Linked DNA regions of Homo sapiens: region 2 is linked to region 1. Evidence: fine-mapped expression QTL. A gene starts in region 1. The other region holds a variant in brackets. All regions are shown on one strand. Distances are between the middles of the regions. Region 1 holds the start of CD164 (CD164 molecule). Region 2 has its middle 140 kb from the start of CD164.

The links.
Region 2: its variant is fine-mapped to the expression of CD164 in fibroblasts (GTEx, PIP above 0.99).

Annotation. Positions count from the first base shown.
Region 1 is chr6:109,375,623-109,390,770 of GRCh38, reverse strand. It overlaps CD164 (CD164 molecule), which reads left to right and starts at 8,304. Exons shown (of 6, transcript NM_006016.6): 1 at 8,304-8,567; 2 at 11,109-11,192; 3 at 12,800-12,871; 4 at 14,659-14,697. The coding sequence starts at 8,393. PPIL6 (peptidylprolyl isomerase like 6) reads left to right here. Exons shown (of 8, transcript NM_173672.5): 8 at 1-556. RefSeq lists enhancers at 7,687-7,916, 7,997-8,346, 7,902-8,411 and a silencer at 8,567-8,846.
Region 2 is chr6:109,235,705-109,250,852 of GRCh38, reverse strand. It overlaps the pseudogene CCDC162P. Among named protein-coding and RNA genes, the nearest start is that of CD164, 140 kb to the left of the region's middle. RefSeq lists an enhancer at 8,066-9,265. The variant A/G (reference allele first, on the strand shown) is at 9,467.

The DNA of each region.
Region 1 (15,148 bases):
TAGTACAATATCAAACCAGGCAGCTGACATTGGTACAATGTGTGTGATGCCATTTTATCATGAGTATATTCATGTAACCAACACTATAGAGAAAATATAGAACCTTTCCAGCACCTCAAAGACCCCCTTCCAGTACCCCTTTACAGTCAACCCACTCCCCTGCCCTCTGCCATCCCTAACTCCTGACAACTGGCATTTGCTTTTCCTTTTAATGACAGCTTTATTGCTATATGACATATGCTTTATGCTAAGACCTGAGGTGGATGGGAGGAAGCAGACCGCCTATGTTACATTCTCAACTGACCCAGAGCAACATAGTGTTAAGAATGTGTGTTCTAGGGCCAGAATCCTGGCTCTGCCATTCCCTAGCTGCACAAACTCAGGCAAGAACTTTTCTGTGCCTCAATTCCTTCATCTGAGAAACAGTGGTACCTACCACATAAGATTGCTGTGAGGGTTCCATGAATCAATAATTTCTATAAAGAACCTATAAGAGACCTGGTCTGCTGTAAGCACTCGATAAATTTAATAATAAATTACTAATGTGTAACCTTCAGGGTGTAGCCTCAGAGCTTGGACTTTTTGAAAGCTCTCCAATGACTTTGATAGCCAGATTTGGGAATCCCTGAGGAGAGTCTCCCTCTTCCTGTACTCACAGACTTCTGGGCAGTCTGAGAACTCGGGTGATTTGTCTAGAGCTTCCAGACCCTCTCGCTGGGCCTTTGCCCAGGTTCCTCAGGTCACACTGGGGACATCTCAGACAAAAGGGAGCTGGGCTTGCCACCAGGATTCAAAACAATTGGTGAATGAAAACTGATTCTTTGCAAGGAGCCCGGTTAAAACACATGACAAGCGTTACTCATGTAATAACAAACAGCAGGGCAGTTCTTACTGGTGATGAACCTATATATTAATGGCATTAGGCATTTTATCTGATGTTGTGAAAGAACTGGGATATTTGTGTGGGTGTAAGAAACTGATTCCAGCTCCCTTTGTCAGCAGCAATAGAAAGGTAGAACTCTGCCAGTCTTCTCAAGGATGGCGAGTTCATGGTCCCTTTGTTCACTCTAACTTTCCACTTCTGGGCTGTGGAAACCTCAACCACAGATCCATGCAGTGGTTCTTATCACCAGCACTTAAAAGTATACACACTGATACTTCTGTGCTAGAATGATTTGTATGTTTAACCTCATAGTTGAAGAAACTGATTGTTAGAAGGACTCAAAAGTTTACTCCAATGAACTCCACATGTAAGACTTTGATTTAACCAAACTGAAATACACTAATTAAACAGAAGGGATTCTAGATTTTTCCACATCTACAAATAGGACAATAAAGGCCTTCTGATGATTTACACAAAATGCTAAGTTATATGTCTAAACTTGCCCTAATTGCTGATATGGCAAAGTCAAGTACATACGCTTTATCTTATACTAGGCCGTGTGAATAAGGGAGGGCATATCTAAACATTTTTCTTATATGGGGAGATTTGAGGTAAATATTTAAAATTCTATCCAAGGAATTTGTTTGCCCCTACTGCAAACAGTGCCAGTTATTTGTTAAGGAATGGATAATCTGGCAACCTCAGGATTCCAGACCCTGAGTTTTTATACATATTTTAAATGAAGCATTATTTGTTTGAGAACCACCTGTCCAGCAATGTGATGGTCAAATCACTTAACCTTTCACTGTCCCCATTTGTAAAAATAACAGAAGTTGAGTTGCTAGCTTTCTTCTGGCTCTAAAACTTCAGTGATTATTCTGAGGAAACGCATAAAATCAACAATTTTAAGTGAAATGGGGGTACATCTGTCTCAGTGTTCTGAGGATTGACACAGCAGGTGAATCTATTCACAGCAGGTGAATTATGAGAAGCACAGCACAGTGCTTCTAATAATGCTTGGCACACAGCAGATATTCCTTAAGAATTAGTTTCCCTTCAGAAATGTCTCCCCACGGAAACCAGTCAAGCTACCACTGACAGAATATCATCATCCTAATTTCAAGAAATATCAAGCTCTTTTTATACTGAGTATTAGCAGTTCTCACATCAGATTAACTTTCAATCAACTGAACTAGTTCAAAGGTATATCTTTAAAATTAAAATTGGTCTCTACCACACCTAGCAATATTCTCCCTTATGGAGACTCATTTTTTAAACTATATTGATCTTACCATCCCCTACACTTCCCAAAGTGGAATCACCACCACTTAAATCTGGCAAGTCTTAAGACTTTTGTATATCATACGAAATATTGGTGACTAACTCAGTAGTAATGTATACAACATGAATTACAAGTTGCATATTTGATAGAGGGCTTTGTAAGGTGATAAATCACAGGTTCTTTTACTTTAGCATGCATCAGAGTGCCTGGGCCTGTCAAACAGATTGCTGGACCTCAGAGTTTCTGATTCAGTGGCACTGGGTTGGGCTGGAGAATTTGAACAAGTTCAAGGTGATGCTGCTGCTGCTGCTGTTCTGGAGACAACACTTTAAGAACAGATGGGATATATTAGATCTCTCATAGATCTGTGGCACACAGGTATGTAGAAGAGAAAAGTCATAACAGTAAAGTGTAACCTACAACAGAAAAGGAAGAATGAAGGAAACTGACAAGAAACCTTGATTTCATCAAGGCAGCAGAGGAGGTACACATACGTTGACCAATTAGACAGTGACCAGAATTCTGTTGCAAGGTCCTGAGGTTCTTAGCAGGGCCAGATGTGAGACCTCCAGGTGCTGGACAGTGGCAACGTGGTAGTCAGATCCTTAGGAAGGGACTTGGACACTTGGGCCGCTCAGGACACGCACTTTGCCAGTCAGTACAGAATTACTAGAATATTTTAATAACCAGAGTGGCCATGAGGTGTCTTCTGGCTGAAAATCAGCTCTCCAAGACAGGATCGGGAGAAGCACAGTGAATACCTAGGGACAAGGGGAAGCCATAGCTAATCCAAGATATCAGCAAGCCGCCTGAGGTGTAGTTTAGCTTGAACTTGGAGGTTATTCCTAAGGAACAAGTCAGGAAAAGGTTTCATTTCCTGAAGGACCAAGAGACGTAATGCAAAGAGCTCTAGCAGACCCAGGGTTTGAAGCAGAATACAAATAAAAATCATGCATCTCGGGTGCCAGCCTTAAGGGAACCTGGGCTGGGCTCCCTGACTCCTGCACATCCAGGAGGTTTGTGCTGTTTGTATGCTAACCTTACATATGTTTGTAAAGAAAGAAGCAAAAACAGTATATCTTGATGTAATTTTGTAAATGAATCACTGTTAAGAATTGCAGGCCTGGCATGGTGGCTCATGCTTGTAATCCCAGCACTTTGGGAGGCCAAGGGGGGAAGATTGCTTGAGCTCAGGAGTTCTAGACCAGCCTGAGCAACATGGTGAAACTCCGTCTCAAGCAAAAATACAAAAAATTAGCCAGGTGTGGTGGCGCACCCGGCTATTCAGGAAACTGAGGTGGGAGGATCACTTGAGCCTGGGGAGGCGGAGGTTGCAGTGAGCCGAGATTGCGCCAGTTTGACTGAAATAAGCCAGTTTATTTATTCATTTTTTTCTCAAAAAAGAAAAAAAATTGCAGCAGTTCAGGATAGAATAGTTCTGTGCAAGTCATAGTGTAAAGCAGTGTTCTCCAACTTTTTTTTTTTTTTTTTTTTTTTTTTTTTTTTATGAGATGGAGTCTCACTCTGTCGCCCAGGCTGGAGTGCAATGGCACGATCTTGGCTCACTGCAACCCCCACCTCCTGGGTTCAAGCAATTCTCCTGCCTCAGCCTCCCAAGTAGCTGGGATTACAGGCACCCGCCACCACACCTGGCTAATTTTTGTATTTTTGGCAGAGATGGGGTTTCGCCATGTTGGCCAGGCTGGTCTCGAACTCCTGACCTCAGGTGATCTGCCGCCTCAGCCTCCCAAAGTGCTGGAATTACAGGCGTGAGCCACTGCATCCGGCTGTTCTCCAACTTTAATACTTTACACATGTACATATCTTCTGGGAATCTTGTTAAAATGTAGGTTCTGATTCAGGAGATCTGAGGGGGAGGCCTGAGGTTCTGCATTTCTAGGTGATATAAATGATAATGGTTTGAGAACCACACTCTGGAAAGCAAGAGTAAAGCACTGGTTTTCCACCTAAGCTGCAGATTAGAAACACCTGGGAAGCTTTTAAAACTGCTGATGCTCAGACATTACTCCAGACCAATTAAATCAGTACCCAGGCACTAGTATCAATATTTTTCAACACACACCACCACCACTGATGTCACTAGGTAGTTCCAATGTGCAGCCAGGGTTAAGAACAACTGCTCTAAAGTGTAATGCTCCCCTCTGGCGCCCTGGCACACTTTTCAAAGAAACATCCACAGTCAAAGTGGAGAGCCTCCTAATGACAATATCTCCAGAATTTTACCCTTAATCTTAATCACAATATTAAGACTCTGAATATACAGTTTTAGCTAATATTTGATTTATTCCAATCCTTCTCTTTGTCAAAACAGATTCAAATACTACTAAATGAGCTTTAATATATGCTGTTAAAACTGTCTTACAGATGCCAGCCCTTGTTTCCCACCCATACTCCTCTAGATGAATCTACCCTGACCCACAGCTGAAGAGTTCAGGGAGTTATTTGTAGCAGCTGCCCTCCTACGCTTTTATTTTATTTATTTTATTTATTTATTTTTTTTTTTTTTGAGGCAGAGTCTCACTCTGTTGCCCAGGCTGGAGGGCAGTGATGCAATCTCGGCTCACTGCAACCTCTGCCTCCTGGGTTCAATAGATTCTTCTGCCTCAACCTCCCAAGTAGCTGTGATTACAGGTGCTTGCCACTACGCCGGGCTCCTCCTGTGCTTTTTAATGCAGCTAATTTTTGGCAAGGGTGGACAACTGACTGAAATAAGCCAGTTTGTTCATTTATTCATTTTTTTTTAATTAAGTGCAGGGAATAAACTGGTGAGCACTATTTCTGAGTTAATCTAGTGAGAAAGACAACTGCTATATAATGCAGTATATGCTTTGTTATGGGCAAGTCCAGGGTGCACAGAGCAGGAACACCTTTTGTAGTCTGGGAGTGGGGAGAAAGGGGTAGTTGAATATTTTAAGGATAGCTTAAGATGGGAGTGACAGCTTAGCTGAGAGACCTCAAACAAGTAGGAGTTGGTCAGATGCCAGAAGGGAATAAGAATGTTCTAGGCAGAAGAAATAGCATGGATGAAGATCCACATGCAAAAGAAAACATGACCAGTTAGGAGAACTGGAAGTTCAGGGAGCTCTAGTGTAGACTGCATGGATGGAGTCAGAGCAGAGAGTAGGTAACAGACAGGTTGGGAAGGCATGGTACTCAGTCAAGTTATCTCTTCCAAGAGCTATATAACTGGAATACTGGGCAATGGAGATGATTGGCTGTGGGTCTATAGATCTGGCAATGTCCTGTAGGGTTGAAGCCTGAAACGAAGTCCTAGCAAACCAGCTCCACGTGCTAGGGATTCCTCCTTTTAAGTTCAAGTCTCCCTTGGCCCTCACACACTTGATTTCCCACCCCTGAATGCCTATAAGATTTACTGTCATATTCTTACAGTGAATGGATTCCCTTTAACATAAGCTAGTACAAGGGGGTTTGTACTTCTTGCTATCAAGTAGTGGAGGCAAACCTCTGATTATTAAGGGGCCACTGGATGTTAGTTATAGCTAGAAGGCAGGGTCCTGTTTGGAGTGTTGATCTGTTTATTTGGGGAAAGGTACTGACACAAGGCTGAAGCATTGTTTAAAAATCTGCTGTTTAAAAAACTTAGAGGGAGCTTATACTGCTAGAAGATTCACAAGCGCAGAAGCACTCTGTCTTGCTGCTTTCAAGAAAATAAATGGTTAAGAAGGTCGCTCTAACAACCAATCGACAATCTAATTGCAAGCAATGTGTCTAAGAGGAAATAACCTGAGTGATGGCTGACCTTGCACACAGAAGAACGCTCTGAGGGTGCCTTTCAATTGTGATTTTACCCCCAGGAGACATTTAACAATATCGGGAGATATTTTTGGTTGTCACAACTGAGAGGTGGGGTGCTTCTGGTATCTAGTGTGTAGAGGCTACGAATACTGCCGAATATCCAACAATGCACAGGACAAGCAAGAATGAGTCAGCCTGAAATCTTGATAGCGCCAAGATTGAGAAACCCTGCTCTATGACAACAATAAACAGAAGCTTACTGTCAGGAACTGAAAAAAAAAAAGCTGTCTCTCTGAAATGGTGAAAATGACTTTGGAACTCCCTTGATCTACCTCTACAGTTGCCATGCAAAATAAAATAAACCAATGGTTTTCTAGTCTTAAAACAAGAGCGTGAAATGTCCCTTTATCAGGACTGAGGAATATCTGAGGACTAGAGTTAAACATCCAGGTGACAAATTGTTAAACAATGGTCTGCACAGAGGAGTGTGTTTATCCTAGGGTGGAAAGAAGATAACACACCAAGCTCTGAGAACAGAGCTTCTATTTACATTTTTTTTTTTTTTTTTTTTTTTGAGACGAGTCTGGCTCTGTTCCCCAAGCTGGAGTGCAGTGGTGTGATCTCGGCTCACTGCAACCTCCGCCTCCCGGATACAAGCGATCCTCCTGCCTCAGCCCTGCTAGTAGCTGGGATTACAGGCACGTGCCACCATGCCCGGCTAATTTTTGTATTTTTAGGAGAGACGGGGTTTACACCATGTTGGCCAAGCTGGTCTCAAACTCCGGACCTCAGGTGATCCACCCGCCTTGGCCTCCCAAAGTGCTGGCATTACAGGCGTGAGCCACCGCGTCCGGCCCCTATTTACATTCTTAACCTTAAAAAAAAATTAAAGTTGCCTTGCGCTTTCATTTGGTCTGGGTGCCAGATAGTCAAGTGTTAAATATAGAGAGAGGCCTCCTGAGAGAAGAGCAGACACTTCTCTGAAGGGCTTATGGTGGGAGCTCACTTCCCTGACAGCATTCTCATGCTTCTGGGCTGGATCAGTCAAAACTATCAGCTTTTTGTTTACATCCAAGCAACACTACTCCAACTAGCGTAGTCATTGGAACAAATGTTCATAGTCCTGAGGGTACAGAAGGACGACACTGAAAAGATCCCAAGGGGAAATAAAATCTTTCTATTTGAGCAAAAAGGTAAAAGCACTATGTAGTCATCTTTTTTGGCACATCAAAAAAGTCATCGTGGCACATCAAGACAGACCTCACGAAAGCAATTAATATTCCTATATTATTAGGATAACTTTGCATAATTAAAATTACATAAGTGTACAACAGCTGAAAACACAGCATTAAATACAACTTTTAAAGTCTAATTTTTACCATGTGATAACCGTATCAAATTTTGCGAATATTTTGTGAGACTTGGCAGTAGATGGCGCTCACCTTTACTAAAAGTCTGAGCAGCGCCTTAACACTAACAGGAACTTAAGAATCCAGCTCTGATGTCAGGCAATCCCGTGTCCAGGTCAGGTCACTTTTTTAAGTCTCAGTTTCCTCACTGGTAATGTGGGGGTGGGGGCCTCCCCAATGACCTCGCAACTCAGACCGCTTTTGATTCTCTGACTACAGTGGTGGAGTTGAGACAGGTCGGCTGCTGCAACCGCCGTCTGAAATAGCAATCCGGAAAAGTCAGGTTGGGAAAGTGACAGAGTAGACGCCCTGCGGCTCTGATCCGGGCGGCGCCTCAGCTGCCCACACTATGTGGGCGGCAACGCACAAACTCCTTAACCACGTGGTGCCTCCATTCCCCTAGGGAGTCCCATCACAGGATAACTTCTAGCAAAATCAATCTTCAAGAAAAAAAGAAGGGGTCCTGCCGAAGATATAAGGAAGCTCCCTGGGGATCCCGCAGCACAGCACAAACTTAGTTCTTGAGAGCCGCACAAAACCAACTTCCGCCCCAGTGGAGTTGCGTCCGGAAGGCGCGGCCCCGGAGGTCACGTGGGCCCGCGGAATTACAGCCTGGCGGGGCGCTCAGGTGGAAGCAGTAGGCCACATTATGTCGACTGTTCCATGCAAGTCAGGGTGGGGGCCGTCCCTATCGCAGGCATGAGACAAGTCCAGCTGCGTCGTGTCTGGTAATCTGAGGGCAAGAAGAACGATTTGCAGAAGCTCCCAGTTTTCTTGGCTGTGGCACAGTCGCTTTGAGGGCCAGGTTCCTTCGGCTTCCTCCCGACTCCCCTGCTTCCCCCCGTAGGATTCCCGTTGGTATCGTCCGAGCCCCACCTCCCTCCTCTTCGCCCCCGCACGCCGAAAACAGGGGCCTCTCACGTGACCCCTGCGCGCTCCCGCGGGGGAGCGTAGTCTCGGAGGCGGCGCCGCAGGGGATTGAGGGGTTGACTGAGCGTTGCGAGCCTTAGCTTTCTCCCGAACGCCAGCGCTGAGGACACGATGTCGCGGCTCTCCCGCTCACTGCTTTGGGCCGCCACCTGCCTGGGCGTGCTCTGCGTGCTGTCCGCGGACAAGAACACGACCCAGCACCCGAACGTGACGACTTTAGCGCCCATCTCCAACGTAACCTCGGCGCCGGTGACGTCCCTCCCGCTGGTCACCACTCCGGCACCAGGTGGGCGCGGGCCCTGTGGGCTTCCCGCCCTCCCCTGCCCAGCCGAGCCGCACTGCCTCCTCGCCGTGCGGGCGGGGCCCGGGTTCGGGCCACGGTCGGGCGGGCGGGCCGCGCTCGGGGTGCGGCGGCGACTCCGGCAACATGGCGGCCAGCCTGGAGTCCACTCGTGGCCGGGCCGGGTGGGGAGCGCGCTGGGGGGAAGCGGACGCGCGGTTCCCAGTGGCTGCGGGGCTGGGGCCCCCCTCGAAGTGTTGCAAGTCGAGGTGCCTTTTAAAAGTGCATCGTAATTCCTAGCCTCACTTGGGGTCGGAAATGGGGACGTGGCTTCCTTCCGCGGGGGCAGCGGTGGGGTTGAGGATGGGGCCGGGCGTCGCGCCTCTGAGGTTGGCGGTGGGGCCGAGCTGCCTCTCCCTGCCACTGGTTGTTCACCCTCCCGGCGCCTCTCTCCGGAGGTAGCCTTCTCCGGAAGTCCGGGAAAGAGAAACTTAAAGACGGTAATGCTCGTTCGTGTCTCAGACTTGAGTCTGAGAAGGTCGCTTGAGATTTAATTACATTGGTTTTGCAGATAGGAATAGAATGTAGCTGACGTTTGAGCACGTAGTTAGTGAAAACTTCACACTTCAAAGTATGCGAAAAGGAAGAAAAGTACCCATGTATGTACCGGGTGTTTTGCGTACGTATCCTAAGGCTAAACTGGAAGGTAGGTAGTGAAACCTAGGAGGTAGATGCAGAGACGGAGATGAGTAAACTCTCCTGACATTGTATGTTTATTCTTTTTTCAATTGTTTTTAAAATTTTCTTAACTATGTCCTGTGCTCAGATAGCGTATGTTTAGTAGGTCGTGGAACGGGGGTTTGTGCCCAGGTCTGTGGGTTTTCTAAAACCCGATCAGGAGCGTGTCTTTTGTTATGTGCAGTCGCATAGGGCTGGTTAAGGCATACATACATTTTAAAGCAGAAATTGCCATATACCGTGACAACACAAAAGAGAGAAGGAAGATAAGTTTGAGGTAATAAGCGGGAGAAACACTAGAGGTTTAAAACCTGCAGTCTCGTATGATTGGTTATTCTAGTTAACATTAGTTAAGGAGTAATGTTTACGTAGTTAACATTGGCTTCTTGACCGAAGAATGCCGAAGTGTAATGATTTTTATCACGGCATTCATATTCTACAAATTCTCCTCTAGTTTTAGTATTTTATAAAAGTTTAATAAAGTATATAGTAAACTTAATGTTTTGTTTTTAGTTTAAGGAAGATGTAATGGTAACATTTCAAAACGAGGGAAGTAAATTGCAGTATAATACTGGGAATTCTAACCGCACTATTTTAAGATGATAGAGCAGAATATGTTTGTCTCAGTCTTAATTTGACAGTTTCCTTTCAGAATTGTAGTGTGTGTGTAAGAGAAGGTTGGAAGTATCAAATTAATTTGTCTTTGTGTAATTGAAGTGCGTGCAAAGGAGGTATGTATTTTCTGGAAATCATAAGTGGATGTAGTGTGGTCTGAAAGGTAGCAAGTTTAGTTCATTGTAAAGAACATTTCAGACATTTCACTTTGCTACACCCGTCAAGCACAAAGGTTTTTAAACAGCATGTTTTATCTATACAAACTTCAGAAAATTTATTTTTACTTTATGAACCCTTCCCCACCCCACCGTACATGTCCCAGTCTTTAATAAGTACTAATGATGAAGTATTGAAAGCAGTGCCTCTGCAGAACTATTTTTTAGGCAGGAGCAAAGCAAACGAGAATGTTTGGAGGCATCTAGTTTCTAGGAAAATGAATGGAGCCCAATTCTTTTTTTTCTTTTATTTTGCTGCTTTTTCTCACTGGAAAATAGAGCCCAATTTTATAGTCCGTTCTTCTCCAGAAATTGAATTATGGTGATGAGTACTTGTTTCTGGATTGTTTGGCCTAGGATGAACTATTGACAAATACCTTGTTAACCTGAATTGTATGCACTTGAATATGGGCTTTTAGATGTTGTCTCCAGTTGTGGAGGATCCTGTCGAGAGTGGATCATTTATGAATCGAGAATCCCTGGGAAATTATCTTTGTTTGCAGCAGAATGGGCATCATCAGTGCTTGGGTTCAACCTGTTAAACTACTACTGTTACTACTAAAAATCTCAGGGTTTTATCTGATGTTTGGGGGTAGTGGTTTTCCTATGTGTAGTGTTGGTATTATATCAAAGCCTTTTTCTCGATATTTTTATGTATTAAGGATGCTTTGAAATGCCTAAATCCTTAGTGGCTGTGGGTGTCTTCCAATAGTTGTCCTGTGAAAAAGGATTGGTTAGACAGATACCATCAGGCACTGTACTGAGAGTGACCACTAGCTTGTTTTTCTAATGCGTTTACTTACAGCTTTGTAATGATTGGAATTTCTTAGTAAACCAGTATAAAGTTTTATCATTTATCTGAATTAGTAATTTTGATGCTGTATGTAATGCTTATTGTTCAAAAAGATAAGTAATACAGATTCAAATAAGATACTAATAAAATCATTGATTTCATGCATCTCTCCCCCCAACTCCCCAGAAACCTGTGAAGGTCGAAACAGCTGCGTTTCCTGTTTTAATGTTAGCGTTGTTAATACTACCTGCTTTTGGATAGAATGTAAAGGTAAGAAACTTTGGGGATGCAAAACTGTTTTGTTATAGCATTTTAAAATACAGTAATTCTTGAACACTTGAAAGTTATGTAGGACATTTAGGATATTGTGCACTATTTATTTTGCAAATCCAGTACTCCTTTAAAGTGCCAGTTGCCTCGCACTCCCCCTGAAAATCTCTTTTTGTCTCCCATCCTCCCTTTAGATTCCTTAAGACTTGATAATTAAAGCTCAGTCGTTTGTTTTTTATGAGATGGAGTCTCCTGTGTTACCCAGGTTGGTCTTGAAATCCTAGGCTCAAGCAATCCTCCAACCTTGGCCTCCCTAGTAGCCAAGACTACAGATGCGTGCTTCCTCACCTGGCTTTTTTTAAAGCCTGTTCTAAGGATTGAGAGTACTTTAATACACTGGAATTAGCTGTGAGTGAAGGTTGTGTTGAAAACTGTGTCCTGCAACATGAAATATAAAGAGACCTTATGAAACTGTTGGATGCTTAGGTGTAGAGAAGAAAGAGGTAGGGAGAGTTGACTTCCTGTGCTTTTGTTAATACAAGAGGTAGAGCGCTAAAGGGACGTACATTGAAATTCAATAAGATTCTTATTAGAACCATATTACTGCATACATTATTTTAATTGTTTTTTAATGTAAAGTGGTTGCACTTATCAGTAAAACAATCTAGTTGTTTTGGCGGTTTTTTTTTTAAGTAAAAACAAACCATAAGTTTTTTTATTTGGTAAAAATTTTAATAGTTCTAGAAATTATATCACTACATAAATTTCAAAAAGCTCTTTAAGGTATTAACTAAATTGGGCCAAATTAACTTTTTTGTTATAGAAGTGTCTCTTTTTTTTAGGTCATAAAATGGGATTTAAGGGCGTACTCTTTCCCCTTTATATGGGAGTATGTAAGAGTTGGTGAATTTTGGAGATGGAATGCTCTACTTTAAGATTTGTTGGGAAAGGTTCTCCCCTTACTCTTGTTCCAAGTCTACCTATCCAGGAAAGTTGTTTTAGAAAGTATAGAAGACTAAAGCAGTGAGATTTGGAATAGAGTTTCTACAGTGTTATGGGGTGCCTCATCTGTTTACTAACCTCTTAATACAGACCCTGACCACTTCAACTTACTGTCTCCGCCTTTTTTTTTTTCCCTGAGACAGAGTTCTGTATTTTTGGTAGAGGCAGGGTCTCACCATATTGGTCAGGCTGATCTCGAACTCCTGACCTCAGGTGATCTTCCCACCCTGGCCTCCCAAAGTGCTGAGATTATAGGCGTGAGCCACCTGCCCACTTTTTAGATGATGGCTGCCTTTCTTGATTGTACAGTAGTCTTCCCACAATTCTGAGATCTAAGTGTTGCAGATTTATTTTTTCAGTATATTAATGTGGATTTTTAATGGATAAAAGTTAGAAGGATCCTGCGTAATCTCTAAGTCAGTGGGAAAAGGAGAATGACAGGGTTTGGTCTGTGGGTTTAACTTTAGGTCAAAACACCTAAAGTGGTTCCCCCTGCCCACTTCTAAAGTGTTTGGGTTTGATTTCATAGAGCTTAGTAGCAGAGTCAAAGATAATACAAATGGGTGGTTGATGCTGTTTGTCTCTTTTCCCCTGCCCCCCAACAGATGAGAGCTATTGTTCACATAACTCAACAGTTAGTGATTGTCAAGTGGGGAACACGACAGACTTCTGTTCCGGTAAGTATTCATATTGGCTGCTTGGAAGCTGACCGCAGAGAGGTGAGGAAGATCATTGCCTCAGAAAGCCTTGTTTCAGTGCTTTGTTTGAAGCATTGCCATAATTCTCATCTTGTTAGAATTGGAATATGAATAGTATATTCATATTGATTGATTAAAGGATGATATTTGAAGCTTGGTTTAGTGATTTAGCTATAGTGTGGATGCTGTAAGTGTGGATGCGTTGTCTGCCCCCACACTTTTTTTTTTTTTTTTAAACTTTTCTAGGAATTCATCACAGTTTAGCCGCTATGTTTGCATCTTGCAGGTCTGGGAAACCTCATTCTGGCACTTTTGGTGTTGCGATACTGGGGATTGTTGATTGATAAATTTATTCTGCAGCATAGTTGGTGCTGTGGTTAAATGAGCTTTTCTATACCCATCCATTTTCTGTATTTTAATCTGAGTAACTTGATTAATTTTTAACCTTTACTATTCGTCCAGCAAAACGTTAAAATTCTACTTGAAGCTGCTGATTTTTCCAATGAGATTGTAAATCAGTGGGAAAGGCATATTCCTAATTTGATGCATAGATAATAATTGAATAGGAAAAAGATTTTTGTGCAGTGTGTCTAACCTTGAAAGACTACCTTTGACTCTTTAATTTTGGTAGGGGTTGCCCCATCCCAATGTGAATTTTGTAACTGAACATTTCATTAGTATTAGATCAGTTTTACTTCACACAGGGTGCATAATATAGTTAGGTGGTACACGAACAAACTTTTTTTGAGACAGTCTCTTTGTTGCCCAGGCTGGAGTGCAGTGGCACAATCATAACTCATTGCCACCTCATATTCCTGGGCTTAAGCAATCCTTCTGCCTCAGCCTCCCCAGAAGCTGGGATTACAGGTGCATGCCACCATAGCTGGCTAATTTAAAAATTTTTTTGTAGAGATGGTGTCTCACTATGTTGCCCAGGCTGGTCTTGAACTCCTGGGCTTAAGCAGTCTTCCCACTTTGGCTTCCCAGAGTGCTGGAATTACATGCTTGAGCTACTGGACCTGGCTGAAACATTTTAAGTAATTACTTTAATATGTGTTAGATAAACTAATAACTGTCAGACCTGTGGTTTTGTAATATTGCTTAGAGACAAGATTAATGAAGATTTCATTAGTATTAGAACGTTTTTGAAAACTGATTTAAAGGAAAACTGTATTTGTACTGCTGCATATTTGATGATGTACCAGTTAGAATTAGTTTCAGCTATGAAGGACATAAACCCCCAAATTACAATGGCTTAAGCAGTGGACTGATTTACTTTTCTCTCATGTAAAGGAAGTCTGGACTAGAGTTCAGCTCTGCAACCATTAGGGACTGAGGCTTCTTTAGGTTTTTACTCTTTCACCTCTCAAAAATGGCTTTGACCCTACTGTCCAAGGTGGGTCCTTATGTTCCAGCCATCACATTGATTATTTTCCTGCCAGCAGGATGAAGAAGGGAATGAAAGAGGCTTGTATCTTACTTTAAGGATGCTTCCTAGAGGTTATGCGTGATGGCCTGGAAGCACTGGAGACTAGGAAATGTCTTTTCAGGAGGAAGGGAGGTGTTGATAAAAATTGGTGATTCTATTTCTAAAGAAGAGACTGGTATTTGGGGGCAACTGTCAGTCTCTTCCACAGGTAGTATTTAAGTGTTGTAAAAATTGTGAAAAGTACTCAAATGATTGCAGGTCAGGAACTAGCGTTATAGATTGTGATATTTTAAATAGCTTTGATGTATATGGTTTTTCTTTTTTCTTTTTTTAATAGTTTCCACGGCCACTCCAGTGCCAACAGCCAATTCTACAGGTAATTCAAGATGACTGTTTTCTTCCTTTTCCTTCAGTATTTTTAAGCTTTCTTGATGGATTAGTTTTAAATAATTATGTAAAAGTTGTTAGTATAATTTTAAAGATGAGTAAAAACTTAAAAGTCTTGGACCACAGCAATTAACGTTAATCTCTACCTTTTGTGACAGTGACACATAGCTCCAGTGTTTTATAGTCGGTGAATGTGAGCAGATTTGCTGAGGCTGTGTACATTGAGTCTATAAAGTACTTTTTATAGATTTAGTGGAAATCTTGGGAAATATAGAAGCCTAAAGCAAATTATAATTCTCATCATCCAGAGCAACCAAAATGTTTTCAGTGATTAATTTCTTCTAGTCTTTTTTATGTGTATCTAAATAAATACACTTTTTATGAAATTGTACGATAACGTTCATGCACCTTTGTATTTCTTTTTTTCTTTTCTTTTTTTT
Region 2 (15,148 bases), 140 kb after region 1:
CTGAGATCAAACTGCAAGGCAGCAGCGAGGCTGGGGGAGGGGCGCCCGCCATTGCCCAGGCTTGCTTAGGTAAACAAAGCAGCCGGGAAGCTCGAACTGGGCGGAGCCCACCACAGCTCAAGGAGGCCTGCCTGCCTCTGTAGGCTCCACCTCTGGGGGCAGGGCACAGACAAACAAAAAGACAGCAGTAACCTCTGCAGACTTAAATGTCCCTGTCCGACAGCTTTGAAGAGAGCAGTGGTTCTCCCAGCACGCAGCTGGAGATCTGAGAACGGGCAGACTGCCTCCTCAAGTGGGTCCCTGACCCCTGACCCCCGAGCAGCCTAACTGGGAGGCACCCCCCAGCAGGGGCACACTGACACCTCACACGGCAGGGTATTCCAACAGACCTGCAGCTGAGGGTCCTGTCTGTTAGAAGGAAAACTAACGAACAGAAAGAACATCCACACCAAAAACCCATCTGTACATCACCATCATCAAAGACCAAAAGTAGATAAAACCACAAAGATGGGGAAAAAACAGAACAGAAAAACTGGAAACTCTAAAACGCAGAGCGCCTCTCCTCCTCCAGAGGAACACAGTTGCTCACCAGCAACGGAACAAAGCTGGATGGAGAATGACTTTGACGAGCTGAGAGAAGAAGGCTTCAGACAATCAAATTACTCTGAGCTACGGGAGGACATTCAAACCAAAGGCAAAGAAGTTGAAAACTTTGAAAAAAATTTAGAAGAATGTATAACTAGAATAACCAATACAGAGAAGTGCTTAAAGGAGCTGATGGAGCTGAAAACCAAGGCTCAAGAACTACGTGAAGAATGCAGAAGCCTCAGGAGCCGATGCGATCAACTGGAAGAAAGGGTATCAGCAATGGAAGATGAAATGAATGAAATGAAGCAAGAAGGGAAGTTTAGAGAAAAAAGAATAAAAAGAAATGAGCAAAGCCTCCAATAAATATGAGACTATGTGAAAAGACCAAATCTACGTCTGATTGGTGTACCTGAAAGTGACAGGGAGAATGGAACCAAGTTGGAAAACACTCTGCAGGATATTATCCAGGAGAACTTCCCCAATCTAGCAAGGCAGGCCAACGTTCAGATTCAGGAAATACAGAGAACGCCACAAAGATACTCCTCGAGAAGAGCAACTCCAAGACACATAATTGTCAGATTCACCAAAGTTGAAATGAAGGAAAAAATGTTAAGGGCAGCCAGAGAGAAAGGTCGGGTTACCCTCAAAGGGAAGCCCATCAGACTAACAGCGGATCTCTCGGCAGAAACCCTACAAGCCAGAAGAGAGTGGGGGCCAATATTCAACATTCTTAAAGAAAAGAATTTTCAACCCAGAATTTCATATCCAGCCAAACTAAACTTCATAAGTGAAGGAGAAATAAAATACTTTACAGACAAGCAAATGCTGAGAGATTTTGTCACCACCAGGCCTGCCCTAAAAGAGCTCCTGAAGGAAGCACTAAACATGGAAAGGAACAACCGGTACCAGCCACTGCAAAATCATGCCAAAATGTAAAGACCATCGAGACTAGGAAGAAACTGCATCAACTAACGAGCAAAATCACCAGCTAACATCATAATGACAGGATCAAATTCACACATAACAATATTAACTTTAAATGTAAATGGACTAAATGCTCCAATTAAAAGACACAGACTGGTAAATTGGATAAAGAGTCAAGACCCATCAGTGTGCTGTATTCAGGAAACCCATCTAACGTGCAGAGACACACATAGGCTCAAAATAAAAGGATGGAGGAAGATCCACCAAGCAAATGGAAAACAAAAAAAGGCAGGGGTTGCAATCCTAGTCTCTGATAAAACAGACTTTAAACCAACAAAGATCAAAAGAGACAAAGAAGGCCATTACATAATGGTAAAGGGATCAATTCAACAAGAAGAGCTAACTATCCTAAATATATATGCACCCAATACAGGAGCACCCAGATTCATAAAGCAAGTCCTAAGTGACCTACGAAGAGACTTAGACTCCCACACATTAATAATGGGAGACTTTAATACCCCACTGTCAACATTAGACAGATCAACGAGACAGAAAGTCAACAAGGATACCCAGGAATTGAACTCAGCTCTGCACCAAGCGGACCTAATAGACATCTACAGAACTCTCCACCCCAAATCAACAGAATATACATTTTTTTCAGCACCACACCACACCTATTCCAAAATTGACCACATACTTGGAAGTAAAGCTCTCTTCAGCAAATGTAAAAGAACAGAGATTATAACAAACTATCTCTCAGACCACAGTGCAATCAAACTAGAACTCAGGATTAAGAATCTCACTCAAAACCACTCAACTACATGGAAACTGAACAACCTGCTCCTGAATGACTACTGGATACATAACAAAATGAAGGCAGAAATAAAGATGTTCTTTGAAACCAACGAGAACAAAGACACAACATACCAGAATCTCTGGGACGCATTCAAAGCAGTGTGTAGAGGGAAATTTATAGCACTAAATGCCCACAAGAGAAAGCAGGAAAGATCCAAAATTGACACCCTAACATCACAACTAAAAGAACTAGAAAAGCAAGAGCAAACACATTCAAAAGCTAGCAGAAGGCAAGAAATAACTAAAATCAGAGCAGAACTGAAGGAAATAGAGACACAAAAAAACCCTTCAAAAAATTAATGAATCCAGGAGCTGGTTTTTTGAAAGGATCAACAAAATTGATAGACCGCTAGCAAAACTAATAAAGAAAAAAAGAGAGAAGAATCAAATAGACACCATAAAAAATGATAAAGGGGATATCACCACCGATCCCACAGAAATACAAACTACCATCAGAGAATACTACAAACACCTCTACGCAAATAAACTAGAAAATCTAGAAGAAATGGATAAATTCCTCGACACATACACTCTCCCAAGACTAAACCAGGAAGAAGTTGAATCTCTGAACAGACCAATAACAGGAGCTGAAATTGTGGCAATAATCAATAGTTTACCAACCAAAAAGAGTCCAGGACCAGATGGATTCACAGCCGAATTCTATCAGAGGTACAAGGAGGAACTGGTACCATTCCTTCTGAAACTATTCCAATCAATAGAAAAAGAGGGAATCCTCCCTAACTCATTTTATGAGGCCAGCATCATTCTGATACCAAAGCCGGGCAGAGACACAACCAAAAAAGAGAATTTTAGACCAATATCCTTGATGAACATTGATGCAAAAATCCTCAATAAAATACTGGCAAAACGAATCCAGCAGCACATCAAAAACCTTATCCACCATGATCAAGTGGGCTTCATCCCTGGGATGCAAGGCTGGTTCAATATACGCAAATCAATAAATGTAATCCAGCATATAAACAGAGCCAAAGACAAAAACCACATGATTATCTCAATAGATGCAGAAAAAGCCTTTGACAAAATTCAACAACCCTTCATGCTAAAAACTCTCAATAAATTAGGTATTGATGGGACATATTTCAAAATAATAAGAGCTATCTATGACAAACCCACAGCCAACATCATACTGAATGGGCAAAAACTGGAAGCATTCCCTTTGAAAACTGGCACAAGACAGGGATGCCCTCTCTCACCACTCCTATTCAACATAGTGTTGGAAGTTCTGGCCAGGGCAATTAGGCAGGAGAAGGAAATAAAGGGTATTCAATTAGGAAAAGAGGAAGTCAAATTGTCCCTGTTTGCAGACGACATGATTGTATATCTAGAAAACCCCATTGTCTCAGCCCAAAATCTCCTTAAGCTGATAAGCAACTTCAGCAAAGTCTCAGGATACAAAATCAATGTACAAAAATCACAAGCATTCTTATACACCAATAACAGACAAACAGAGACCCAAATCATGAGTGAACTCCCATTCACAATTGCTTCAAAGAGAATAGAATACCTAGGAATCCAACTTACAAGGGATGTGAAGGACCTCTTCAAGGAGAACTACAAACCACTGCTCAAGGAAATAAAAGAGGATACAAACAAATGGAAGAACATTCCATGCTCATGGGTAGGAAGAATCAATATCGTGAAAATGGCCATACTGCCCAAGGTAATTTACAGATTCAATGCCATCCCCATCAAGCTACCAATGACTTTCTTCACAGAATTGGAAAAAACTACTTTAAAGTTCATATGGAACGAAAAAAGAGCCCGCATCGCCAAGGCAATCCTAAGCCAAAAGAACAAAGCTGGAGGCATCACACTACCTGACTTCAAACTATACTACAAGGCTACAGTAACCAAAACAGCATGGTACTGGTACCAAAACAGAGATATAGATCAATGGAACAGAACAGAGCCCTCAGAAATAACGCCACATATCTACAACTATCTGATCTTTGACAAACCTGAGAAAAACAAGCAATGGGGAAAGGATTCCCTATTTAATAAATGGTGCTGGGAAAACTGGCTAGCCATATGTAGAAAGCTGAAACTGGATCCCTTCCTTACACCTTATACAAAAATCAATTCAAGATGGATTAAAGACTTAAACGTTAGACCTAAAACCATAAAAACCCTAGAAGAAAACCTAGGTATTACCATTCAGGACATAGGCATGGGCAAGGACTTCATGTCCAAAACACCAAAAGCAATGGCAACAAAAGACAAAATTGACAAATGGGATCTAATGAAACTAAAGAGCTTCTGCACAGCAAAAGAAACTACCATCAGAGTGAACAGGCAACCTACAAAATGGGAGAAAATTTTCGCAACCTACTCATCTGACAAAGGGCTAATATCCAGAATCTACAATGAACTCAAACAAATTTACAAGAAAAAAACAAACAACCCCATCAAAAAGTGGGCGAAGGACATGAGCAGACACTTCTCAAAAGATGACATTTATGCAGCCAAAAAACACATGAAAAAATGCTCATCATCACTGGCCATCAGAGAAATGCAAATCAAAACCACAATGAGATACCATCTCACACCAGTTAGAATGGCAATCATTAAAAAGTCAGGAAACAACAGGTGCTGGAGAGGATGTGGAGAAATAGGAACACTTTTACACTGTTGGTGGGACGGTAAACTAGTTCAACCATTGTGGAAGTCGGTGTGGCAATTCCTCAGGGATCTAGAACTAGAAATACCATTTGACCCAGCCATCCCATTACTGGGTATATACCCAAAGGACTATAAATCATGCTGCTATAAAGACGCATGCACACGTATGTTTATTGCGGCATTATTCCCAATAGCAAAGACTTGGAACCAAGCCAAATGTCCAACAATGATAGACTGGATTAAGAAAATGTGGCACATATACAACATGGAATACTATGCAGGCATAAAAAATGATGAGTTCATGTCCTTTGTAGGGGCATGGATGAAATTGGAAATCATCATTCTCAGAAAACTATCACAAGAACAAAAAACCAAACACCGCATATTCTCACTCATAGGTGGGAATTGAACAATGAGATCACATGGACACAGGAAGGGGAATATCACACTCTGGGGACTGTGGTGGGGTGGGGGGAGGGGGGAGGGATAGCATTGGGAGATATACCTAATGCTAGATGACGAGTTAGTGGGTGCAGCGCACCAGCATGGCACATGTATACATATGTAACTAACCTGCACAATATGCACATGTACCCTAAAACTTAAAGTATAATAATAAAAAAAAAAGAAAATTATACTGAGGAAAAGAAAAAAATAAAAAAAAAATTAGCCGGGCATGGTGGCAGGCGCCTGTAGTCCCAGCTACTTGGGAGGCTAAGGCAGGAGAATGGCGTGAGCCCGGGAGGCGGAGCTTGCAGTGAGCCCAGATTGTGCCACTGAACTCCAGCTTGGGCGACAGCGTGAGACTCCGTCTCAAAAAAAAAAAAAAAAAAAAAAATTCACGCCTGGACTGATAAACTTGTTGAGTTTAAGGATCCTGTCTTATTTATATTTCATACAGCCATTCCATTACTACACTGTGCATCTAAATCTCTCACTCAGTTGGTTAAGGTTCTGATGGGCAGATTAAGCCTCCAGACAAAGGCTGTAGAAGCCAGTTATCATTGAAAAGAGGAACATTTTTTCAAAGTCCAAGGCTTGCGCTATTTAAGCCCAGCCAATTGTTTTCCAAAGGGTGGGTGACCTACATCTCTAGGAGTAACAGACCAACCAGAGAGTAGATGAAATGGTGAAGCATCTATTCTACTAGAAAAACAATTCAAAGAAAACACTGCCATTTCCCCATCTTCTGACCACATCATAGTGCACTATAACCTGGTTTCCACCCCTACCATGCCCCTGAAAGAGTCCTGCAATGCTGCCAATGACCACCTGACCAAGCTGCTTGGTTTTTAGGAGTTCCTTTCTTGACGTTTCACAGAACTCCACAAGTAACCACCCCCTCCTAATTAAAACTTATTTTTCTGTTGGTTCCCACAATACTATTTCTTCCTTGTTTCTCTGGTCTATTTAGTTTCACTGCTTCTTGTTTCATGACCTGCCCCTTAAATGTAGGTATATTACTCAGGGTTCGGGTGTGGTGGCTCATGCCTGTAATCCCAGCATTTTGGGAGGCCAGGGCAGGTGGATCACTTGAGGTCAGGAGTTTGAGACCAGCCTGGCCAAAATGGTGAAACCCTGTCTCTACTAAAAATACAAAACATTAGCCAGGCATGGTGGCGGGCACCTGTAATCCCAGCTACTCAGGAGGCTGAGGCATGAGAATCGCCTGAACCTGGGAGGCAAAGGTTGCAGTGAGCTGAGATCGTGCCACTGCACTCCAGTCTAGGTGACAGAGCAAGATACTATCTCAAAAAGAAAAAAAAAAGTAGGTACATTACTTAGGGCTTCATTTCAGACACCTCTAGCTTCTCCCAGTTGTTTTGATTCATCATTGTGGTTCAACCTCTGCATTCATACCTCAGCTCATACCTGTTCCTGAGCTTCAAACCTGTAGCTCCCCACAAAACATTCACATCTGAGTTTCAGCAAACCCCCTCAAATGCCTTGTTGTCCTAGGGCCTACGTTATTTTCCTGTCTAAAGACACTCTTCCTCTTCCTGGGTTCAGTTTCAGTTAATAGCCTCCTCCCTAATCCTCAGGAAGTTGTTTAAATTCCACCCTTACTCTCTCGCCCCAACTTCCAGATCCAGTCTTCAAATCCTGCCATTTCCACTTCTGCAAAGTATTCTCAGGTCTGTTCCTCCTTCCTATTCTCACCGCCTCTCTGCCTTTCTATTCTTCTATTGTCATTGCATGTCCCCTCCTAATTTTTCAGGTCACTGTTGCAACAACTGCACTTCTTTTCTCAGGGGCTCTCTATTCCAATCCATTCTCTCACTTACACCCAAGATAGCTGTTAAAAACACAGCTATGATCATATTTCTCTCTATGGAAACTCACTAATGGCTCTTCTTTGTTTGTAAGACAAACTCTAAAATAATATAACTAGTAGGTCTTTTACAGGCTGCACCCAAAACACATGTGTGGCTTGTTGCCATCCATCATGCCTTTACATCCCAGCCATAACAGTCTTCCTACCATCCTCCAAGAAGGTAAGATTTTATTTCTCAAAATAAAATCCCCCAAGCTGGTCCTTCCCATTTACATTGCCCTGACATTCTAATGCCATTTCGTCTGCTTAAGAATCTTTTCTTCCCTGCCAGACAATATCTTACTCATGTTTTAGTATCAAGATTAAATATCTATTCCTCTGGAAAGGCTTTCTAGCATTTCTTCCATCGGACAGTGCTCCCCTCCCCCAGGACAAATCTCTCTCTCTGCAGAGTCCCCATGACTCATGAATGTATTCAATTATAAGCTGTTAGTAACTAGATTATAATTTTTGCTTGGAGATTGAATCAACTTTTATAGATGATAAATTCCTTAAAGATAAAGATCATTTTCACTTAGTTATCTATAGGTCCCTGAATGCCTGGAACAGTCCCTGGCGGAGTAAATACTTCATATTTGGTAAGTAAATGCCTAACAATTGGTGATTATTAGAAGGGCTCATAATCCATGCTAAGGGCACAAATGAAGAACAGTAAACCTGCAGTGTTTCATTCATTATTGGGATATGAACCATTCGTGATACAGTGATGATTTAGTAACTTGCTGTTTCATTGCTTTAAACTCACCCTCATAACATTGCACTCAGCACCCTGTCCAATTGCTTTCACCTACCCACATGTGGCATACGCTTCTAAAGGCCATGATCAGGTCAATTTGTCTGTAATTAGCAAAGTGAGCATTGTCCCTGTGACTGCACAATGAGCATGAATGAAATCATCATTCATTCTCACTAAAAACATACATATTATAAGAAGGAATTACGTAGCCCTCTAACAAATAATACCTGTAAGATAAAGAAGTATCTTTCACATTTTGTTTTTTGTGATGAACCTCAGTAAAGAAAATAAAATGTATTACATCCTTATAATTAGCTGAGATTATTTAAATAAAATAATTATTCTCTTGGTTGAGAGCTTTTCTAAAAGTCTAACTGGGTTTTACAAAAACAAACAAAAAACAGAAAAAAGACTGGATTTTGTAAGAATGTTTTTTTAGCAGACATTTTGTCTCCTAGGCAAGAATACCTGGCGCTTGTTTTCCAGAAGAGCTGCTTCCCAAGTCCACGTGTCATACAGCACAGCAAATCTGTCCACATCTGCATGGGCCCATCCCCACTCCTGGCCACTCTTTGGCTGGCTGCCCACTTTGTGACCTGGGAGAAAAGAGGGTGAGAATGTTTAGAGACAGGGCTTCCAAGGAACCTGTTCCAATTAGAAATGTGCCCCTTGGATTATCAGCTCCATCTCAGAAACAGAAATACTGAACCAGTCCCTGGGACAAAGCCTGACTTCATACTTGTTGACTTCTAAGTCGACAGGAGCTTTTGTTTTTATTTTTAAAATTCAGTTTCAAAGACTAATCTTAGAAATAGAGTCAAAATTTAGTTAACAAGAAATCTATGCTAAAATGTCCTTAAACCCACAATTTAAAGGCAAAGTATACATTTCTCCTTCTCTAAAAACAAACCCCTGGGGGTTTAACAACAAACTTAGTTTGACTTGCTATTTCCATCATTGTGAACCAAGTCGAAAATTTTCAGAAACGTTTCCAAGATATTCCTTAATTATGTTAATTACTAACTTAAATCAATGAAGTTAATTTTCATTATTCAGCTGATTTTTTTTAACTTTGTTCACGTTACTTTTCACTACTGGTATTATTATTGCTTTAAATTTTTAACTATTGTATTTCAGAATTAAATATTCAAAGATAAGATACTTTCATGTGCTGAAATTTAAGCTCAATAATTATCACATATCTAATGGGTACTAAGCAAGAGAAAGATGATCAAGAACTTCCGTAGCAACAGTTGGGAAATCATTTCACAATAGATGACTATACATTTACCAGCTCAATTGAAAAATGCCCATGTGGTTAAATGACTACTGACTAAGTGTCTCAGTCCAGTTAAATTCTTAGCAGCTAGAAATAGTTGCATGCTATT[A/G]TAAATTAATATGGACCAAATGGTGCATTGGTTTGTAGGATAACCAGTAAAGATAAAAGCTAAGGGCTGAAATTAAATACCCTGGAATGTTGGATGCCATCATTGCGTCCTATGATTCAGATACCAATGGCAAAGACAGGACAAAGAGTTCAATCCTATATCAAATTAATTCTGTCTAGGATCTGAAAAGTTAGTTGTCAAACTTTCTTTGAGCAGCATTTTATAACAATATGAATGTGAATTATCTTTAATTACAGTCTACACATATTACAAAATAGCACAAACCCTGATTAAGTTTCCCTTTAGGTATTGCAATGTGTCTAGAAATTCTAAGCTCTTTGCAAGTGTAATTCCAATGCTGTCATAGTATCCCAAAAGAATATTCTTACCTCATTCATTTCTAAAATTGGATCGATTTGAGTGATGCCAAAAGGAAGAGAAAATACAGGTTATGGGTTACTTGATTACCCTGAGTAATGATTTCTTCCTCTGGGGCTTGTCTGGCATTTTCCTAGCCAGATGTTCTTGCATCCTAGTGGTTTCCTGTTAGGAACTCAGGGCTGTCTCTGCTGCTAAATGCAGTTTCCTCAAGGTCTACCACTTAGAAAAGTCATTTGTTTCACTTGCTTACTTTCCTTCCTTCAGGGTCCTGCACCACATCCCCTGCACCCAGTGGGTGACGCAGAAATGCCCCTGGGAGTAAAATCCCAATTCTTGGCTTAAGCCTGTTTTAGTCAGAAACCACCCAATTTAGCGTGCAGGTCACCAGAGTGGGTAGAGGGTCAGAGGTCAGGTCTTTGGCCCTGAGAAATGAAAATGCAGGGGCCGTGCTGTCCCTTGTACCTCAGGAGAGCAAGGAAGAAACTGGGCCTTCCCTGGCAGGGCTTCCTGCTCCTGCTTCTGTCTCCACTAGGCTTTCCCAGAAGGCAGCACCTGCTCCTCAGTCAAAGCACCTGCCTCGCACCCCTCCGGCCCCCTCAAGCCCACGATCTGCCTCTGAGTGTTGCACTAGGATTTTTATCGCTTAAAGTGTCTTAATTCTTTGTTCCCTGACACACAAGCCCTCTAGCTATTGAAGGGGAGATCATGAGAAACCTTCCAGGGAACCAGAGCACAGAATGACTGTTAGTTGTTTTTTCAAGTCTATATAAACATTTCAACAGATCACAAAGAAAACATTTATCTCTTCGGTCCTCGCAAGAGAAGTCAAAGGAACTTTTGTTTCTTATCAAGAGCCTGGACATCTTTGTCTGTCGTAACTGGAAAGAGCCTGTTGTACTGAAATCCTGTTATCATGGTGGATTTGATCTTCAGTGGCCAAACATGAAGAATTAAAAGCATAATTCTTGACTGAACTGGTGGGTGGGTTGAACTTTAGGAGTACATGGGCGGTCATTCCTGGCGCACATATCAGTGTGACATGAGCCCTGGAGCATGTCGTCCCTCTCAGCCCTGCTCCTTTCTGTCTCCTGGGGCCCAGTGACTGAGGCCTTACGCTAGAACTGTGTATCATCCAACTCTCCATTTATAAAGGAAACTTCCTGCTGCAACAACAAAAAAAAAAAAGAAAGAAAAGAAATGTCCCTGGTCAACAAACAGAGTCTGAATCACAGCAAGAATTACAACCCGGCCCTGAAAGAGTAGTCACCATCTCTATCAGAAGCAGGGCTTGAGCTGGAAACAGAACTGTGTCTCTCCTAAAGTGAATGCATTTTAGGGGTGGGGGAAGTGTGCGCTTATTGAGTTTTCACATACTATTGGATATGTGTTTATATTTTGGGGTGGAGAGTATTAAAAAGGAGCCCTTAGTGTTTTTTGTTTATTTAGGCAGTTGATTTTTTTTTTTTTTTAAATCTGACTTCTCACCCCTTTCTTTCTCAATGTAATGGCTAGCCACAAGCAGCAACTCTGCCTCTAGTTCCTTGAGATCACTCAAGGCTTCCTCATACATGACATGCACCCCTTGCTGGTCCTGGGTGTGGATGCAGCCAGCTTCTGTGCTGTAGTAGTCATCCTGGTTCTCCACTTCCGAGAACTCCATGAATTGGACGCTGTGGACCTGGAGAAAGAAAGCCAAGCCCAGATGTTACTGGAAAAAGGAGAGCTATATTTTGCCATCCCACATGGACAAGCAGCAGGCTTCTGCTCCCACACAGTGGGCTGCCAGTATGAAGCTGTAAATATTCTGAATGTATAAAAAGCTGTATGCAGAAAACATATTAACAAAGAATATTGGCAGGAAGAGGTAGTTCCTGAGGTGGATAACTAGCTGATTAGTTTGTTTTTCTGACAAATTCAGTAGCAACTGGAGAAAGGTAGGAAATAGAGCCTAGAGTGGTCTCTGGAGTCAGAATGCCTGGGTTCAGGCTCTGGCTCTGCCAGGATCTCATCCTGGGCAGGTCATTCAGCTATTCCCAGCCTCCGTTTCCTCATCTGTAACATGGGGACTGTGGAGACACTATAGACTATGTTAGCTGCCAGGAGTATGTGACTCTATGAGTGTAAGGCACTTGGAATCCTTAAATGTTAGGTTAAAACTATTTTTCTTGTAATTCTATAAGTACTTCTAAAATGTGTTAGCACAGTTTCATGGCTTACTAATGTACTAAGTTGAATAGTGTCCCCCAAAATTCATGTCTACCTGGAACCTGTGAATGAGAACTTATTTGAAAATAGGTCTTTGCAGATGTAATCAAGTTAAGATGAAGTCATACTGGATGAGAGTGGGCCTAATTCAATGACTGTGATCCTTACGAAATTTGGAGACAGACACGTAAGGGAGAAGGTCATGTGAAGACAGAGGTAGAGACTAGGGTGAGTCAAGGAATGCCAAGGATTGCCAAGGGTTGCCAGCAACTACCAGGAGCTGAAAGAGGCAAGGAACTATCACCTCTAGAACCTTCAGAGAAAGCACGGTCCTGCTGACACCTGGATTTTGGATTTGTGGCTCCAGACTGTGAGAGAATAAATTTCTGTCATTGTGAGACACAGTTTGTGGTACTTTGTTTTGATAATCCTAGGAATCGAATACAAGTAAGAAGTATTTCAATCATAATGTTATTTTTCTTAGAAAACTGAGTATCTGCTGCTTCCTGAGAATCGTTATTTTAATAATAATTTTCACAATTTCCAACCTCCACTCTCCTCAAGCCTCGGAATCCCTCCCTCCCAGGCGTAGTCTCCTCTTACTCCCAGGAGGAGCTCCTCTGCGCGCCACTCTCCGCCGCCTCCCCAGGGCTCACATCTCTCCCCTCCTCCTTCCTCCGCACAGTGGAGGACAGTGTTGCCCCCCTTCTCTAGGGCCGCTGCCTCCCACCTCAGCAGCATCCCTGCTCCTTCATGGATATCCCACTCCTCTCCGCTGGACTCTTGACACTGAAATGTGCACACGTCCCTCTCATTGTGAAACTTCCTCACACCCTTCCCCAGGTTCCACTGTGTGGCTCTCCTCCCCCTCACTGTCCAATCTCCCAAGATGTTATCTACAATCTCCATTTCTATTTCTTCACCTCCCACTCTTCAACCCATTCCCATCTGGCCCTTGGCTCCATCGAGCCACCCAAACCACCCTCACTAAGACCAACAATGACCACTGCTCTACATGCAACAAACTTTCTTTCATCATCTTACGTAATCTCTCAGGAGCATCTGATATAATTTAGTGCTTCCTGATTCTTGACTCACTCTCTTCTCCGGGCATCTGGGACTCCACGTTCTCCCTGATTTTGCCTAGTTTCCGGTCATTCTGTCTGACACTGTGAAGTGTATTTATTTTTCTCTACCAAGTCCTTAAATGATGGCCACTCTCAAGCCGCCTCCTAGGACCTCCTCTTTTCCTCCTCTGTTCCTTCCCTAGGAGGTGGCAGACATTTTCATAGCTGAGATTACCACCTTTAGACCATTTGCTCCCCAGTTTATGCCTCCAATCCAGACCCCCTAGAGCTCCGGACCCGCACATCCAATTACCTATTTGGCAACTGCTCCTGGGCATCTCAAAGCCCCCTCAATTTTAACAATGATCAAATCATTAAATCTTCCCCCGCAAACCCAGGCTATCTCCAGCCGATTTTACTAAATAGCACCACCACCCATCCACTTCCTCTAGCATGAATCATTCACGACATCTCTTTCTGCCTCGCCCTACTTGTCCAATCTATCACCAAGTTCTGTTAGTTTTACTTCCTGTCTCTCAAATACATCCACTTCTGATATAGGAGGTGGGTCAGGGAAGTGCTGAGTAGAGAAGGGTGAGGGTTCCACCCTTGGGCCTATGCCCTCAGACCTAAGGGAGAACAGGTACTCCTGCTTTTGTGCCCGAATGTTGCATTTTCCAAGACCACTCTGGCCCACCATCCTGTGCCCATATAAACCTGAGACCTTAGCGGGCACACACGCAAGAAGCTGAATGTTGAGAGGAACAGAGGAACAGAGCAGCAGAGAGAGGCAGAAAGCAGAGCAGCACAACAGAGAAGGAGGGAAGAGGCCTCTGAACGTCCAGAGGAGTTCTGCCGAAAACAGCTGAACTTCAGAAGATTATCTCCCCCACCCCTCCACCTCTAGCTTCCCATCCATCTCACTGAGAGCCACCTCCACCACTCAATAAAACCTTGCATTCATCCTTCAAGCCTGCGTGTGATCCGATTCTTCCGGGACACTGGGCAAGAGCTCGGGATACAGAAGGCTGTCGCACTGGCCGTCTGCCCTTGTGATAAGGCAGAGGGTCCATTGAGCTGATTAGCACTCAAGCCATCTGCAGACAGCAAAGCTGAAAGGGCTTTGTAACACGGGTTGCAGGCACCCACCGCTAGACACTAAGTGGCGCTGAGAGCACAAAGCACTTGCCCTGGCCTCTGCACCTGCCTGTCTGCATGCTCCTCCTTGGGGTTTGAGCGGCAGGGCCATGAAACAGGCGAGCCACATCCCTGTCACACATTCTACGAGGGGAAATCAGGGAACTCTCCCGTTTCACTTCTTCCCATCTCCACTACCCACTACCCTAGTCCAAGCTATTATATTTCATGAGGACTAGTCTAGGAGCTTCTAAACTGGCCTAGCCTCTTAAATGGTCTATCCATGACTCCTCTGGCCTGGGCTTTCCCTCCTCTCCATTTTACTCACTGCTGGCTGGGGAACTTTTACAAATGCAATTCTGATTGTGTCATTCCCCCTTCCCCCTTTTCTATCCCTAAGAGGCTTCCCATGGGCCACAGAATAAAGCAAAACTCCTTAACAGGGCCATACAATCTGGCCCATGCCTATCCCTCTAGTCCAGTGTTTTTCAGCTGAGAGTGATTTTGCCCTCCAGAGGACATTTGGCCATGTCTGGAGATACTTCTGGTTGTCATGACTTAGTGGGAGGTACTGCTGGCATCTGGGTAGAGGCCAGGGATGCTGTTAAATATCCTGTAATGGACAGGAGAGCTTCTCACAGCAAAGAATTATCAGGCCCCAAAAATCAATCGTGCCAAGGCTGAGAAACTCAGAGCTAAGTTCCATTGTGCATCACCTTCCACCTCGTGTCTGTGCCCCAACCACTCCTGTCTTTTGGTTTCTTATAGGTGCCATGATCCCTCTGGCCACAGGTCCTTTGCACAGGCTGTCCCCACTCTGTGGAAAGGTCTCCCTCTCCTTTTTACCTAATTAAAGACTTTTCATTTTCCAACCTCAGCTCAATCGTCACTT